2 linked regions of the Homo sapiens genome follow. The protein of the gene in region 2 purifies or fractionates together with the protein of the main gene of each other region. This does not show direct contact. Each region holds a gene or a part of one and is shown on either strand. Other genes may lie near its edges. The genes, in order: PREPL and TTC39B.

What was found.
Region 1: the proteins of TTC39B (region 2) and PREPL purify together in Homo sapiens (affinity purification with mass spectrometry, with the first as the bait; one large-scale study listed by BioGRID). This does not show direct contact.

What each region holds. Positions count from the first base shown.
Region 1 is NC_000002.12:44,340,687-44,344,512, reverse strand, and holds part of PREPL (prolyl endopeptidase-like), read left to right. Parts: intron 1-561; coding exon 562-768; intron 769-1,960; coding exon 1,961-2,096; intron 2,097-3,826. UniProt on the Homo sapiens protein: Serine peptidase whose precise substrate specificity remains unclear. Does not cleave peptides after a arginine or lysine residue. Regulates trans-Golgi network morphology and sorting by regulating the membrane binding of the AP-1 complex.
Region 2 is NC_000009.12:15,300,544-15,304,369, forward strand, and holds part of TTC39B (tetratricopeptide repeat protein 39B), read right to left. Parts: intron 1-3,826. UniProt on the Homo sapiens protein: Regulates high density lipoprotein (HDL) cholesterol metabolism by promoting the ubiquitination and degradation of the oxysterols receptors LXR (NR1H2 and NR1H3).

The sequences.
Region 1 (3,826 bases), on a different chromosome or scaffold from region 2:
ACAATTTTTCTTTTTACGTGCTCTAATTTTCAGATTTCATATTTTTTATAGGAAATTTATTAATTTCTCAAAGATAGAGAAAAGATTTTTTTAAAGATTATTTCTGAATTTTTTTTTAATGACTAGTTTTTAATATCTGGGTTTGTGTAAGATATAGTTAGACTCAGAAGCTTTGGCAGGGAGAATGGAGACGGCATCCAGCATTTTTTGAGCATCTGCTGTGTCTTGGGTACTATGCTAGGCACTTGGCATATATTGTTGATTGTCATTTATATTCACTTACTTTCTAGGTTCTGTATGGTCTGTAAATACTAAACTAGACTATAACAATATCAAATAATGTCTCATAGGTTGATGCACAGAATAGTATTGAATAGTATAAGGTAATATTAAATAACTTATTGTCAGTTGATGTGCAAGTTAAGCTGCCATCATTGTTGAAAGAAGCTAGGATATGGCCTCTTACAGAATGGGAATTCTAATTTAAAACATTAAAATACAGTTTTAATTTTTTAAAGTACATCCTTTGAAGTTATCACTTTCGTATTTTTCTTTATACAGCAGACAATGATAATTATGAAGTTTTATTCAATTTGGAGGAACTTAAGTTAGACCAGCCCTTCATTGATTGTATCAGAGTTGCTCCAGATGAAAAATATGTGGCTGCCAAGATAAGAACTGAAGATTCTGAAGCATCTACCTGTGTAATTATAAAGCTCAGCGATCAGCCCGTAATGGAAGCTTCTTTCCCGAATGTGTCCAGTTTTGGTAAGCCACCAACCAAAATAGTCCTCTGTGTTGAAAGGCAACGGTAACACTTTTGAAACATTTTTTTGTCGCATGTGAGGGAGGGAGAAGGTGAATGCCTGATTCATGTATCCCTATGGACTATACATCTTCCTATGTACCTCTTATTCAGGAGACCTTCCCTTATTTAATTATATATCTAGATGGGTAATTTTAAAATACTCATGTTTTTAAAAGTGTTATAATTAGAGTCCATGTCATACAATATGTTTTGATTTATCAGAATTATTTGCCAAATTATTATCTAGAATAAATTTTTACACGTAAGTTGCATCTTAATATTTTATTCAACTTTAAGCTTGAATGTATTTTTTTAATTTCATGTTATCTTATAGAGCTGTTACAGCATAAAGTCACTACCAAAGAACTTGGTATGTGTTGAACTAACCTGTTTATCAATGGAAGCTGTGACATTTTTAGTAATAGAACTAACTTTAAATTTATCATTGAGTGGTACATATGTTACATTTTGTCCTCCCTTTTCATTTTCAGCCATCATTTTCTCCATTGTTTAACTAAATGTTGTTGCAGTGAATTGAAATTATACCCTAACTATTGAATTCTAAGACATATATTTTGTACATTTTATAACCTTTAAAATCATGGTGCATATTATACAATGATGACTTACAATCACTGTCAGCCAGGTGGCAGTCATGGTGTAATTGTGTGCAAACTTCTGTTGACAGCTTCTGGTGGGATCAAGAATCAGCATTAAATTGTGTTTGGTAGTTGGAGATATCCTGTGGCTTGAAAGCAGACAGAGAAGGTTTACACATGAGAGAAAGATGCAATATTCCTTCAGACTTACAGTTTCAAGTTGTAGATTGAGACGGAATTCACCTCCTAAAAGCAAATGTGACTTTACCAATGTCTTTCCTAAATATTGAGCATTTAGCTCTTATTTAGAAACCTGAGTACCCTGAGACTGATAACTACTTGAAACCTTGGAATGGTGTAGTAGTGGTTTATTCTCAGGAAAGCTCTCTGGCTTATATACAGCACAGATTAGATACAGTCAAATATTTAGATTTCCAGGGATAAACTTGCACATGTTCTCACTGGCATTCAAAATTAGAATGTGCTGTGCTTTTTTTTTTTTTTTAATGGAGTGTAGGTGATTATGTATAATTATCTCATTATTTTCTTTCAGAATGGGTAAAGGACGAGGAAGATGAAGATGTTTTATTCTACACCTTCCAGAGGAACCTTCGCTGTCATGACGTATATCGAGCCACTTTTGGTGATAACAAACGTAATGAACGCTTTTACACAGAAAAAGACCCAAGGTACTAGAATAATATAATTAAATCTTTCTCTCCAGAACCTTCCTCCAGTTATTTAAAGTACTGACTTTGGTTGACTTAAAACGTTTATTTTGGTTGGAACCAGGAATAATAAGGCTAAAACGATCATTCTTTTATTAGTTGTTTGTATTCAAAATTGGAGTCTGGTAATATTCAAAATCAGAGTAAATACAGATATATCACTAATATTTTATTAAAAACTGAAATTGATTTTGTGAATTACAACATAGTTCATTCATGTAAATTCATAAAGATGACCTAGAACTGCTAGATTGTGAACAGACTGAGTCTGTTTCACCTTTGCATCTTAATTGATAAGCAGGGTGCCAGGTTTGTATAGTGCTATTTAGTCAGTATCTATTGCTTAAATAAATGGTATATACTTAGATAGGTATCTCTCTTTCAAACTAAAACCCCTTGTTCCTGATGATTGTTGAGTACCTTTTAACCATTAAATTCTTAGTAATATATAGAAGAATTTAAAGTATGTGTTGCTACTAAATTATAAATTAAAACTAACTCAAAAATGTATTATTGTGCTAGGTGAAAAAATTAAATATATGCTATGGTTTCAATTGGGTATCAAGGAAAAAAGATGCATTTTTAAAAGATTGAAAGGAAATACACCCAAAGTACTAACAATGGTTTTTTTTTTACTTTTCTTTTTTTCTTTTTGTAATAAGCATTATTATTTTTATAATACATTTTAAATTTAAAAATAATTGTCGATAGAAATAATTGGAAAAAAAGATTAATGTCTAGTTCTTTATATTTCGTATATTCTCTTAGACACATTTTACCCTAGAGCCACTTGTGTTCTCACTTCCTGTAACCACATATCTAACAACTATTTGGTCAAGTAGTTTATTTTTAATTTGTCATCACCAAACTAAGCAAACAAAAATATATAAAAACAGCGAAGAAAGTGTTGAAAATAAAGAGCAAAGTAGGGTAGGGGACTTGCCCTACAATTATATATTAAAGCATATAAAGCAATAACAGTAAAAATAATACAAATTGATAGACAAATAATAGAGCTTAGAATAACTCTAAAACATAGATCCTAGTCTATGTGAAAATTTATATGATAAAAGGCATCACAAACTAATGAAAAATGAATCGGTGTTATTTTATAATGCAATGGGAAATACTATTTGGGAAAAAATAATTTTCATCATTGTATATGTCAGCATACATTCCTAAGAGATTTAAAGAACCCATTGAGAAAAATAATTTTTTAATAAGATGAAAATATAAGCTTTTTAGTCAGCTTGGTTGGAATATTTTTGAAACATAAAATCAATATAAGAAATTACAAAGGGTAGTAGCAGTCTCGATTACGTAAAATATTAAACTCAAGTCAAAAACCACAAAAACTATTGTAAATAGTTAAAATCTAGGTAACAAAATGGAGGAAAGTGTTTTCAACAAAAAGACAAGTTAATGTTCTTAATTTTTTTTTTTTTTTTTTGAAACAGAGTCTCACTCTGTCACCCAGACTGGAGTGCAGTGGCGCAATCTCAGCTCACTGCAACCTCTGCGTCCCAGGTTCAAGTGATTCTTCTACCTCAGCCTCCCAAGTAGCTGGGATTACAGGCACCTGCCACCATGCCTGGCTAATTTTTGTATTTTTTGTGGAGACGGGGTTTCACCATGTTGGCCAGGGTGGTCTTGAACTCCTGATCTCAGGTGATCTGCCAGCTTTGGCCTCC
Region 2 (3,826 bases):
GATTTATCTTCCTAAAATCAGCAATCTTACAACAATTGCCTCATCAAAAACCTTCCATGTGGCTGGTTGCAGTGGCTCACGCCTGTAATCCCAGCACTTTGGGAGGCCAAGGCAGGTGGATCACCTGAGGTCAGGAGTTCGAAAGCAGCCTGGCCAACATGGCGAAACCCCGTCTCTACTAAAAATACAAAAATTAGCTGGGCGTGGTAGCAGGCACCTGTAATCCCAGCTACTCGGAACGCTGAGGCAGGAGAATCGGTTGAACCCAGGCTGTGGGGGCAGAGGTTGCAGTGAGCCGAGATCCCACTACTTCACTCCAGCCTGGGTGAAAGAGTAAAACTCCGTCTCAAAAAAAAAAAAAAAAAAAAAAAAAAACCTTCCAGGTTCCCATTTTTTAGGAGATACAACCCAAATTCCTTAGCGTGACATTCAGGACACAATGACTCACGACCCAAGTCAGCCTTTTTGGTTTCTGCCCTTGACACTCTCCTTCCCACTGTACCAAGTGCTCTCTTATTCCCGCCCATCTCAACTTCCCCCAAGGCCTTCCCACTGGGGAGCCCAACACAATCCCACTTGCCCTTTGAAACCTAGTTCAAATACCATCTCTCCTTTCAAGTCTTTGCCGGACCCTAAACAAGGGAAGCCAATCATCCCTGTTTGTACCTGTTGTCTTAGTGCAATTACTGAAAGCGCTCATTTACTCAGAGTGCCCTGCTTTGAATGATAAATTATATGACCTTCCTACCTAAAACCTACCCTAACCCAAAGATAGAAATAGTACAGTGACTTGTGTTAAGTGTTTTGCTTGACGTTGTGCTCCTCAAGGGTAATAACTGTCTTGTTTTAGTGTGTACATCCAGCATTTAAAGACTGTTAGGACCTGCCAGGCGTTCAATGAACGTTGGTGGAATGAAAGAATAAATCTCAGCTGGGAGCAGTGGCTCACGCCTATAATCCCAGCACTTTGGAAAGCCCAGGTGGGCGAATCACCTTTAGTCAGGAGTTTGAGACCAGCCTGACCAACATGGAGAAACCCCGTCTCTATTAAAAATACAAAAAATTGGATGGTCGTGGTGGTGCATGCCTGTAACCCCAGCTACTCGGGAGACTGAGGCAGGAGAATCACTTGAACCCGGGAGGCAGAGGTTGCCGTGAGCTGAGATCGTGCCACTGCACTCCAGCCTGGGCAACAGAGAGAGAGTCCATCTCAAAAAAAAAAAAAGAAGAAGAAAAGAAAGAAAATTGTGGTAATGAATTTTATCAAAACTTCATCTAAACTTCCAAAGAGAAATTAGCCAAATCAGAATTAGATCTAAAAATTCCTGGGCCAAAAAGCAGGCGGTAAAAACATGTCACATAAGCCATTTATTTCCTAGTCAGTGTCTTAATTTTTTTCATTATCAACCCTCAAAGGAGCCTAAGTATAAAGCTTACTTTTTTAATTCAATAACAGGATCAGAATGACTCAATAAATATTTTAAAAGTTAAGTGTAAGGTTGGGCACGGTGGCTCACGCCTGTAATCCCAGCACATTGGGAGGCCAAGGCGGGTGGATCACTTGGGGTCAGGAGTTTGAGACCAGCCTGGCCAACATGGTGAAACCCCATCTCTACTGAAAAAAATACAAAAATTAGCTGGATGTGGTGGTGGGCGCCTGCAATTCCAGCTTCTCCGGAGGCTGAGGCAGGAGAATCACTTGAGCCCGGGAGGCAGACGTTACAGTGAGCCAAGATCATGCCACTGCACTCCAGCTTGGGTGACCAAGCAAGACTCTGTCTTTAAAAAAAAGGCCGGGCGCGGTGGCTCACGCCTGTAATCCCAGCACTTTGGGAGGTCGAGGTGGGTGGATCACAAGGTCAGGAGTTCGAGACCAGCCTGGCCAATATGGTGAAACCTCGTCTCTACTAAAAATACAAAAAAATTAGCCGGGTGTGGTGGCACATGCATCACGCCACTGCACTCCAATCTGGGTGACAAAGCGAGATTCCGTCTCAAAAAAAAAAAAAAAAAAAAAAAAGCCGGTGCAGTGGCTCACACCTGTAATCCCAGCACTTTGAGAGGCCGAGGTAGGTGGATCACCTGAGGTCAGGAGTTCGAGACCGGCCTGGCCAACGTGCTGAAACTCTGTTTCTACTAAAAATACAAAAATTAGCTGGGCATGGTGTTGGGCGCCTGTAATCCAAGCTACTCGGGAGGCTGAGGCAGGAGAATCGCTTGAACCCGGGAGGCGGAGGTTGCAGTGAGCCGAGATCATGCCATTGCACTCCAGCCTGGATGACAAGAGCAAAACTCCATCCCCCACCAAAAAAAGAAAAAAATGTTTAAAAAGCTATGAACATTTGGCCGGGCGCAGTGGCTCATGCCTGTAATCCCAGCACTTTGGGAGGCTGAGGCGGCCGGATCACGAGGTCAAGAGATCGAGACCATCCTGGCCAACATGGTGAAACCCCGTCTCTACTAAAAATACAAAAATTAGCTGGACGTGGTGGCACGCACATGTAGTCCCAGCTACTTGGGAGGCTGAAGCAGCAGAATCGCTTGAACCCAGGAGGCAGAGGTTGCAGTGAGCCGAGATTGTGCCACTGCACTCCAGCCTGGGCAACAGAGGGAGACTCCAACTCAAAAAAAAAATCTATGAACATTTAACTTTATAACTGTATTTGCTGAGTGACTTTTAATATAATGTTAAATATAATGCATCAAATTATATATACAAATTATCAATTTCTATACCTACATAATAGCAATGTAATCAACTTTTCAAAAAACATTCAAAACTGTTATTTTCCAGCAAAAGTAAAACTATTGAAAAAATCATTTTCTGAAAAGTGATTTTTTTTTTTTTTTTGAAACGGGGTCTGTCACCCAGGCTGGAGTGCAGTGGCATGATCAGAGTTCACTGCAGCCTCAACCTCCTAGGCTCAAGTGATCCTCCCACCTCAGCCTCCAGAATAACTTAGGACTACAGGCGGGCACCACCATGCCCAGCTAACTATTCATATTTTTATTTTTGTAGAGACAGGGTCTCACTGCGTTACGCAGGTTGAAAAGTGATTTTTAGTGAACTTTTGTTTCATATGAGAAAAATTTTTTTTTTTTTTCTGAGATGGAGTTTTACTCTTGTTGCCCCCGCTGGAGTACAATGGTGCGATCTCAGCTCATGCAACCTCTGCCTCCCAGGTTCAAGCGATTCTCCTGCCTCAGCCTCCCAAGTAGCTGAGATTACAGGTGCCCGCCACCACGCCCAGCTAATTTTTTTGTTATTTTTAGTAGAGACTGGGTGTCACCATGTTGGTCAGGCTGGTCTCGAACTCCTGACCTCAGGTGATCCACCCGCCTCAGCCTCCCAAAGTGATGGGATTACAGGCATGAGCCACCACACCTGGCCTCATATGAGAAAATTTTTAACTTAATTAGCTGCTAGATATTAATTCAAATACTGTCAATGTTTTCCTTTTTGGCACTTGAGATAATTATTGGTGAGCTGAATAATCTTAATTGAATTAAATAATAAAATATAAATGATTTTCATTCAATTCTCAAATCCTTATATTTGAGGGCCAAATATAAGCAAGCCACAAGGCACCCAATGGTAGCCCATAAGTATGTGAAGGTAACCAACTAAAATGACTTCAAGATCAGGCAACTAGAGAGAAAGTCTTCCAACCACAGCCATCTCTACGTTATAAATTTGTTGGATTGACCTTGAATATATTCTGTACATCTTCCATGAATCCATTATCAATGTTGCTAGTGTAATACACAAGAAAACCCAATGAGAGAAATTCAAATATTAAGAAACAAGCTTTTGTTGATTGAGCTT